Homo sapiens: one gene and its partners. The protein of the gene in region 3 interacts with the protein of the main gene of each other region in a pairwise test. Each region holds a gene or a part of one and is shown on either strand. Other genes may lie near its edges. The genes, in order: CHIC2, PAX5 and FBLN1.

Region 1 (3,757 bases), on a different chromosome or scaffold from region 3:
AACCAATGGCAAAACCGATTCAAAACCTGAATCTACCTTGTAATCTTTCTTTCTAGGGCCTTTTAATAATAGATTAAGATTACTATACAATTTGAGGTTTTACTTTTACTGATGATTTTGGGGGTGGGTGGATGATGAAAGAACTAGAGCAGAACAAGTTTTCCAAGCCCACTGTTTTATATTAATGTATAAAATAGTACCCAAAAGCTTAATACTACATTCTGCAAATACTTATTACTTAAAGAAAAAAATGTAGTTACCACCATCATTTCATCAGAAGTTTAAACCCATGCTATAATAAGAATAGATCTCATTATGATATATAGACACATACATACACACAATTTTAAAACTTAAAAATATTTACTTTAACTTAAATCAACTACTAGTATTTGAATAAAAGATAATTACAAAGTATAAATCTTGAATTCCAAAATATTTAAGTAGGAATTCTGAATTTCTTCTCTGTTTATAATTAGGAGTTTAATGATAGGGCTTGGTATAATAATTGTATCTTACAATATTTAAGAATTATAAAACAAACAAGCCCTGATATGCCACATTCTGAATAAGCATATAAATATAAAATATTTCTACACACTTCACAGTCTGAAGTAAAAGCTGTGAATTAGCACCATCTAATTTTGCTATAAGACTTCTTTCCTGCTTGACAGGTGAAAAAAAAAGCACTTGCACGTGCAGCTTAATTAATCATTGCACTTGACATCTCAATGATTTACAGTGAGGAGCAGGTGAGAACATACAAAACCAGAAAGGAACCCTTGATTTGAGTGGAACATTTCTAGCACACTAAGGTGACAAGTATATAGATTCTAGCAGTCATTTAAAAAAAAAAGGAAAGAAACTGTGCCACAAATTATTTGTTAGTAACAACAAAAGCTCAAATTAAATAGAAAAAAAAAAGGTTGAGCTACTGAGAATGTTTAATACTATGCAATTATTGTTAGTTAAGAAAATCAAAATATATTTTCAAGATTAAATACAATACCAATTTGGCAGATACTAAAAAAAATGACACTTCAGCATTTATAAAAGCTACTTAAAAGCTTTTAAAAGAAAGCACTTTATAATTGTAGTCATCTAGATAAAAGTTAAAGAGTTTATGTCCACAAGGCTGTCAGGTAGCTATTTCTAATGAAATGTAAGATTCAACAGTGTCGAACTCTACACTTGCTAACTGTGGACAAGCAAATCTAATCATATAACAACCTGTCCTTGGTTTTTAAATGTTTATTTCAACTCCAAATTCAAAACAAGCTGAAGCAAATTAACATGCATCAGAAAAAAATATGTATGGGATCTGTCAACATGAAACAAAGTACCAAAAAACACCATCTTTCAGTATTCCAGGCCAGTTTCTAAAAAAATAAGTCATCTTTAATTTTCTTTAAGAGAATTTAGTGCTTGTGAAAAGCACCAGATTGATAGTCATGGGAACTAAAAATCTATTTAGCTGAAAGAACAGGGGAAGGGGCAGTGCAGGCTTTAGTGTAAGCTTCCCTACAGTGGGCCTTAATCCTTTTCACTGCTCACACCCTGGGGGTGAGGGGACAGGTTAGCGGTTCTTTACCAATGTAATTCTCCGTCTTTCTGCAAAAGATGATCAACAAGAAATGTAATTTTATCAAGTATTCTTATCTTTAATTAAAAGGACCAAGACCACCAACTCACAATATGCAGGAAAAACAACTTTTTTGTGTGAATGGCGTCATGTTACTAACCTGGTCTGGAAGTAGACAGCTCCAAGCATCTGGATCCCACCCATCTCCCTCAGCTCACTTTAAATAACCCTTTTTCTTTAAAAAAACAAAAACAAAAACAAAAACAAAACACACATTTCTTCATTTCCACACCTTAGTGGTTATATTTTTCTCATTGGTGAACTAGTTTTAATACAGCCATTCAGCTTTGTGAAAGTAAAAATTAACAGGAGATTTAAAAAATATCATTTCAATTACTGAATAGGTATTAAACAGACTTAAGTTGAGCAACAAGTAGTAGTAACATAAGAATAGAAATTTTGGCTTCTATTTATATTGCCTTTGGTCCCTTTTAGATTTTTGGTAGAATTGTGAAAATAGGAAAAACATGAAAACGGAAAGAGAACTAAAAGGGCCTCAGTAATTCATAAAATGGCTAATATGGTAATGATTAATCAGCAATATTAGATAAGACATACCCAAATAAGACATACCTTCCAAAGAAGCATCTAAAGTAAGCTTATAACAGCAAAGCACACATACACCTAGACAAACTCAATTACTGCAATAGAAAACTAAGATTTCCTGAAAATTCAAATTTGAATTATTATGTATTTTTGTAATTTTTCCTAAATACTGTAACTTTCTTAGGAATAAATTATTAATATTATTCCCTATAAACAAATTAAATGCCATTAGATATAAATTAGTCTTCCAGGACAGCAAAGAGCCATTTAGAAAATCTTTAAGGTATTAATCTCCTACTTTGCCACCACTGGTTACTTAAGAGTTTCCTAATTCCCAATGACTCATTTAATCACAATCAATTGTTTGAAAACATGGTTTTACAAAGAAGTGGTTTTCTAGACATTACTAATAAAACCAATGGAAATCTCATAAATTTTAGAGTATTGAGAGCTAAAGAAAAAAAATGTTAAGTGTAGAAACTGTAACAAAGTTTATCTTAATATTTCCCAATAAAATAGTATTATCAGTCTTTAGAACAAAAATATGCTATGATATGCTAATAAAATGTACAGAATACTCACTAATAACTATTTATAAAAGTTCACCTATTTAAACCTATAATTAAAATGTATTTGAATTGGATTTATTCATACCATCACAAAATGGGAAAGCAAAATTTCAAATGTTCAATTCCCTACTTAAATTTTAAACTCTTAAATCTATAATGCATTAATTAACCTTTAACTAAAATGTTTTGAATATATTCATAATCTTGTTTTTAACTTATATTTTTCAAATAAGAATGCTATTCATCTTTAGACATCTGTGTAAATTGAATTTGTTAAGTAAAACAATGTCTTTAGCTGTAAGTTATTAGGGAGAAACCATATATAATTTAAAATGAATTATTTTAACATAAGAGAACTTAAGAGGAAATTATATTATTCACTTCTGCTCATTCTGGATTAATATGAAATTTTATATTCCAGTGATGTGCAGAAAATTAAATAATTATATCACAGTATTATGCTACGTGAAAAGCCTAGATTCACCAAAAAACAAAAAAAAACTAGAATATGATTTCTCAAAAGGATTTTTAAACAAATTCCTTTCCTGTACATTAAAGCACCTTTTAAAATTTTAATATGAACATTAACTTTTAAATAATCTAGATATATTAAAACACCCACTGAAGTATCATGTGCTATTTGTTAAAAGTAATATTTTTAGATAGAAATACGCTAAAAAAAATTGCTAAAATTTTGTGAATCAAAAATATCCTCTAGTACTGAGCAGTGTCTTAATAGGTGCTAATCTTAAACAGAATTTCATCAAGTTTACGATCTAGGCTAGTGAGAGAATATTAACTTGTTTAGGTTATACTGGTTATGAATTATGAAAGATAGGGATTCTCTCTCTGCAGAAAAAAAGAAACATGTACACAAACATGCACAATTTAAAGGGGGTTATCTACTAACTCTGAGTACCATTTCAGAAAATACTAACATTTTAAAAAACTAAAATTAAGTTTTGAGGTCCCCATCTGACCCATCTTCTGCCTGACCTAT
Region 2 (2,657 bases), on a different chromosome or scaffold from region 3:
CTGATGAGGCAACAGCTTCTCTGAAATGAGCTGCCGGCCAGGAGCAGGCAGGCACCAGCCTGTCTTTCCTTTTCTGGTAATTCCTCAGCACTGAGGCTCCGTTCCTGGGCACCCCAGGATTGAAGGGAACCTCAGAATCATGTCACTGCCATTCTAGAGTTTCAATCCAAGGGGTCCCCTTTAGCTCATCTCCAAGATGGGTAAACGTAGCCACCATTCAGAAAGCCCAGAAATTCTTGTTCCCACATCTTAGACCCCTGAGCAACACAAGGAGAAAATGCAGCTGCTTACCTATTAATATCTACTGAGGGACAATCAGCAAAGCCTCAAAGGAGTCGTCTCAGGTAGGGTACTTGGCCTGTGGCAGGAGAGACAGAGGCACAAACCCACCCACCCATCAGCTTCCGGTGGCTGATCGGGGCCCAGGGAGGGAAGCAGGTGAAACAGCAGGGTGGGGGTGACTTGGCAGTCGTGCATCTCCTCCCCGACTCTGAGGCCTGGCAGGAGGAGGCCACACCAGCCTCACCTGCCCTGACCCCCGCCCCCCACCCTGTGACCCTGTGGCTATGGCCGCTGGTCGCCCTTGTCCCCAAAATCACCATGCCTGTGGCCACGTCCCTCATCTTCTCCAAAAGCATCATTAAGAACAAGTGATTTTGGATGATGGATTTTTGATTTACAAACGGCGCATTTCCCTTGGAGTGGAACAGAAAGGAAACCATTTAATGGCGCCCTTCTTTTCAAGCATGAATACATTTTAATGAAACTATTTTATTGTATTTGAGGAAATGGAGAGTTGAACATTCCAACCAATCAATAGCCAATTAATTGCTATAAAGCTAAAAAGAAAATAAATAAATCCTGAGTCTATTTTAAACACTGCAAAAAGTTCAGAGCCTCAGAATCTGGCCTTCCCCTCCATAAGGTGCACGAGCATGTAAACACACACACACACACACACACACACACACACACACTCACTCACTCCCCTACACCTCAGACATACTTGAAACTCAGAAACAGCACTGAGTCTCCCCATGCCAATTCTTGCCTGCTGTCTTCGACTTGGGTCAGAGAAGGTGAGCAGACCCGGCAGCAGCCTGTCCCGGGGCTCAGGAAGAGGCAGGCCCATCCCCTGGCCCCAAGCACCCAGCACAACAGAGGGTGGCGGGCAGTGAGGGCCTGGCGTTGCCTGGGCCCCACTTCTCAGCCCCAGCTGCTGGGCCTCCAAGGTTGGGCTGAGGATGGAGTTTTGGCTCTGGGTTTGCCCTGACTCCTGCTGGAAGACGCTGCCCTGGTTTTTCACCCTCTAGTGGCCTTGGACATTGAGTATTTGTAGAAATGCAGATTACATTGCAAATGGAAACCTTTGCCAGGAAGACACATGCATTTTGCTTTTAATTCTTTGAGACATTTGATTTTGTCTTAGGGACTGACCTTTCAGCATCAAAGAAATACATATCTACTGTATCCGCCAAAGTTTGTGATGCCTGCATAGACGCTTACTTGTAAAAAAAAAAAAATACAAAAAAATACAAAAAAACCAACAACAAAAACCACAATTGAATTGCCTTTGAAAGTGGGAGATGATCTGTCTCCAACGGATTGAAAAAAAAAAATGCTTCTTAAAAAATGTGTATGTTTTGTATTCTTTTTTTCTAGTAGAAAATAACTGACTTGAAATATTGGTGGTTTTTTTCTTAGTGACGTGTGTTGCTTTTGTGTGTAATAATATTTGAATGTAATTACAGCAGTGCCAATTTGCCAAAGATGTTGGACATATTTTTCTTTTTTGGGGAGGAGGGCAGGGCTAGGGGTGGGACTTGGGAGAAAACAGGGGTGGGGTTTTGGTTTAATTTTTTTTTTACTTTTTTTTCCTTGTCAAACCTGAAATTTGTGGCTTCCTTTTAAGTTAAATGGTTGACTGCAACACCTTTATTTTAGATTAGTTGGAGAAACATGCAATAAGATTGGCGTAGTTTCAATATCTGTGTGTCTTTTCATGAGTGGCTGTTACTTGTGAAGAATTGATTTTATGTAACCTTTATGTGAGATAATTATTTGTAAATATTTGCCATAATTTTATTGGTTCCTAAAATAAAAGTAATTTTTTAAGTTCAGAAAAAGAATTTGATCTTGTTTGTTTTTACTAGTTTGAGGATGACCTTTGACAACTTTGACTGTACCGTAGTCATGCATGGATTTGATTGTTTTGTCAAAACAAACCCATGTTGCAGAATTGGGCTGTGCCCTGGGCAGGGGACAGCAGGCACAGAATCCACCCTTGAGATGTCCCCAGGCTTGGCAGGTTGAGTCATGGGTGAGCCACCACTCTGGATTTGACTCCTAGCTGTGATTTAATGTCTACTTCTTCAGTTCCCAAATGGTAATTCCCACCTAATTCATTCATTCAGCACACACTGATTGAGCATCTATTCTGTCCCCAGCACTGGGGACACAGAAGTGAACAGGGCCAACCAGGACTCTGCTATCAGTGGCACAATCATAGCTCACTGCAACCTTGAATTCCTGGGTTCAAGCCACCCTCTTGCCTCAGCCTCTCAAGTAGCTAGGACTACAGGCGTTCACCACCAAGCCCAGCTAGTTTTTAAAATAATTTTTCCCTACTTACAAACTAACATATTATCAGCTAATTT
Region 3 (3,757 bases):
CTGGCTCAGCATAGGCCCTGTGAAGCCCAGTCATCGGAGGGGCCTAGAGCCTTGCTGGGAGTCAGAGTTGCTGGCACCACGTGGACAGTCACCTGTCTCCTTAATACCGTGCCCAGTGTGTGGAGTAGATGAATGCAGGAGAAGCCAGGCAGGCAGGTCCCGATTTGGCGCAGCGAACGATGGAGGTGCTGGAGATTTAGGGACAGGAAGAAGGGCCAGAGAGGTGGTGTTTGAGGCGGTATGCAGTGATAAAATTTGGGAGCCAGCTGGGAGGCGGCTGTGTGGTCCAGAGTGAGGGGGTTGAGCCCCTCCATTTGTGGTTTTGCAAAGAGGTGGGAAGGGGAGTTTCTTTGGAGATCCAGTTTTTGGGTTCTGGGACACCCTCCAGGTTTAACCACATGGTCTCTGTCTTTTCCCGCTGTAGATATCAATGAGTGTTTGAGTATCAGTGCCCCGTGCCCTATCGGGCATACATGCATCAACACAGAGGGCTCCTACACGTGCCAGAAGAACGTGCCCAACTGTGGCCGTGGCTACCATCTCAACGAGGAGGGAACGCGCTGTGTTGGTTGGTATTAAGAAAACAAATCTGAAATCCACTTTCCTGTCTGCTTCCAGCATGCACCCTGCCTTCTCTGGAAGCAGAAAGTTGATCCCCAAAGCAAAGCCATTTCTATCAGCCCATCCATCCCACTGTCAGTTCCCAAGCATGGGGCTTCATTGTCTTGCCTGGACTGGTGCACCAGCCCGTCTACTGCCTCAGCCTTGTCTGGCTTGTCCTGAGCCCAAAGCTCTCGCACCCCACCCTGTTTACAGTTCCATCAGCTCCCCGTTGGTGACAAAGGATGGATGCCTCTGCTTACAGTCCAGTCCCCCAGAGCTGGCCCAACTCCACAAACCTTGTAATTCAGGCAATGTGGGTCTGCCACTCCCCACACAAGCACTGTCCTTTCCTCTCTGTGTGGGTGTTTGCTCTCACGTCATTCCCTCTGCCCACCTGCTCCTACGTTCCTTTGGATCCAGGGCACCCAGCCTGCCTAGATCCCGCCAGGGAAGGAGCCTTCCTCGCATAACCCCCAGGACACTTCTTCAGTGTCTCCCTGGGTTCCTGGGCACTTCCTACCTTAATGAGAGTCATTGCTGGCCTGCCAGCCAGGTAGGGCTGCCTCTGGGTCAGCTATCTTCCCAGTCCAGGGCCCGGCACTCAGTAGGTGCTCTGTGAAGTCGTGTTGAAATGGAATGCCTGTTTCCATGTCCATGTGTTCCTTTCTTGCTTTCCTTTCTGATCATCTTGGGGGGAAAAAACCCAAACTAAAGGTTTTCATCATGGCTTTCTTTCTCCTTTGCAAGATGTGGACGAGTGCGCGCCACCTGCTGAGCCCTGTGGGAAGGGACATCGCTGCGTGAACTCTCCCGGCAGTTTCCGCTGCGAATGCAAGACGGGTTACTATTTTGACGGCATCAGCAGGATGTGTGTCGGTGCGTGGGGGGCCCCGCAGGCCTCGGGGGAACCCAGCCACGTGGCACCAGGGACACATTTCTGTGGCACCTCGAGTGATGTGGTCTGATCCTCATCTCAGATAATCCCAAGTGCAGGCAGACCCTGAGAGAAGATCCTGAGTCAGGAGACCCCATTCTAGCCCCAGCTCTGCTACTGCCCAGCCAGGCGGCCACTGGCACCACCCCCCTGTGTGTGAGCCTGCTCCCCATCTGTGGAAAGGGGTTCTGCTTGACCCAGGACCTCCAAGTGCTGATGAGCCAGGTCTACACATGTGGGCAGCATCAGCGATTTCCTGGAGATTCACCGCTGAGCTGTAGATCCCCAGGAGCTAGAGATGTGTGCCTTTAGCCCAGGGCAGCGAGGGGAAAAGTTGACCAGGAGTGGGGTCAGGTCTTGTCCAGCCAGTGCCTGCTGTCACCAAACCTAGGTGCTCAGGGAAGCCTGGCAGCTGCCAACCACTCCCCCAAAGTGGGCACTTTGCTAGATCCTGGCAGACCCTCCTTGTGGGTCCTGGGGAGGAGGACTGGCAGGAGGGCACAAGTTCAGATGTGCTGCCGCAGAAGGAGCACGAGGCTCGCCCACCAGGCAGGCACAGCGCGGCAGTCCCGGCTCTCCCACTGACTTCCCGCATGCTCGGGACAAGTCACTTTGCATTCCTTGTCTGAGAAATGAGGCTGGAGGCCAGGCGCGATGGCTCATGCCTGTAATCCCAGCACTTTGGGAGGCTAAGGCAGGTGAATCACTTGAGGTCAGGAGTTTGAGACCAGCCTGGCCAACATGACGAAACCTCATCTCTACAAAAAATACAAAAATTAGCCGGGCGTGGTGGCACATGCCTGTAATCCCTGTTACTTGGGAGGCTGAGGCAGGAGAATCACTTGAACTGGGAGGCGGAGGTTGCAGTGAGCTGAGATCATGCCACTGCAATCCAGCCTAGGAGACAGAGCGAGACTCCATCTCAAAGATGAAGGAAAAAAAAGAAATGAGGCTGGAGGAGGTGGAGGACAAAGGACATGAGCTGGCCTTACTAGGAGGGTGGAGTGTGGTGCCACTGTGTTGGACATTGCCCTGAGTCAGCCCACCCCTCACTTTCAGATGTCAACGAGTGCCAGCGCTACCCCGGGCGCCTGTGTGGCCACAAGTGCGAGAACACGCTGGGCTCCTACCTCTGCAGCTGTTCCGTGGGCTTCCGGCTCTCTGTGGATGGCAGGTCATGTGAAGGTGAGGCTGGGGCCCCGTCCACTCACCTCCCCCAGGTCACCTTCCTCCTGGGGAAGCCACCCTTCTGCAGACCGGTTTGCAGCAGATCCGCGATGGTTTCCCTGTTAAATGACATGTTAGCAGGGGAAGTGCCTGTAAAATATTGTTCATCAGAGAGGACTGCCCGCCTGCCCACCCGATTTCTCCTGATGACATCCACCCTCCGAGGCCGTGTCGGGGTTCATAGGCTGCGGCAGAGGCCATGCGGGATGTGGCTAGGATTATGGGGCTTGGAGCATGACACCCACGAGTCACAGGGCCTTGGTTATGCCCGACCTCTCCCTGCCTCCGTGTCCTCCCCGGGGAGAGGGGTTGATGTGTGAAACAGCAGCGAAAACTGGACACTTGTTTTGCACAAAGACAGTGTGTGGGTTTTAATCAGATGCTGCCTAGGGGAGACAGGCCTCTGTGTCCATTGATCTCAAGTCACCCAAACAAAAGGAGGGAGGCTTTGTAAATGACGAGCTGTGAGAGGAAGTACTGAGGCCTTTAGGGCGTGGGTCACTGTGCACCTGCCTCTAACTTCTTTTTTTTTTTTTGAGACGGAGTCTCGCTCTGTCACCCAGGCTGGAGTGCAATGCTACGATCTCGGCTCACTGCAACCTCCGCCTCCCGGGTTCAAGCGATTCCCCTGCCTCAGCCTCCCGAATAGCTGGGATTACAGGTGCACACCACCATGCCCAGCTAATTTTTGTATTTTTAGTAGAGACAGGGTTTCCCCATGTTGGCCAGGCTGGTCTTGAACTCCTGACCTCAGATGATCCGCCCACCTCGGCCTCCCAAAGTGCTGGCATTACAGGCGTGAGCCACCGCGCCCGGCCTGCCTCTAACTTCGTGTTGGAGTTAGGCTTTCCCCACCCGCAGAGACAGGGAGAAGCACCCTGGCCTTCCGGATGACGACATTCCCCAGGCATGTCCCCAGCCCTTGAGAAAGACACTCCTTGGTTGCACATCTCAAAGGGACAGAGAAACCGTTTACATTTGCAAGTTTTTCTA

Evidence for each region.
Region 1: the proteins of FBLN1 (region 3) and CHIC2 interact in binary tests that used the Homo sapiens proteins (3 or more experiments, as listed by UniProt).
Region 2: the proteins of FBLN1 (region 3) and PAX5 interact in binary tests that used the Homo sapiens proteins (3 or more experiments, as listed by UniProt).

The regions. Positions count from the first base shown.
Region 1 is NC_000004.12:54,015,996-54,019,752, forward strand, and holds part of CHIC2 (cysteine-rich hydrophobic domain-containing protein 2), read right to left. Parts: intron 1-3,757.
Region 2 is NC_000009.12:36,832,738-36,835,394, reverse strand, and holds the end of PAX5 (paired box protein Pax-5), read left to right. Parts: 3' UTR 1-2,126; downstream 2,127-2,657. UniProt on the Homo sapiens protein: Transcription factor that plays an essential role in commitment of lymphoid progenitors to the B-lymphocyte lineage. Fulfills a dual role by repressing B-lineage inappropriate genes and simultaneously activating B-lineage-specific genes.
Region 3 is NC_000022.11:45,540,805-45,544,561, forward strand, and holds part of FBLN1 (fibulin-1 isoform D precursor), read left to right. Parts: intron 1-424; coding exon 425-568; intron 569-1,350; coding exon 1,351-1,479; intron 1,480-2,596; coding exon 2,597-2,722; intron 2,723-3,757. UniProt on the Homo sapiens protein: Incorporated into fibronectin-containing matrix fibers. May play a role in cell adhesion and migration along protein fibers within the extracellular matrix (ECM).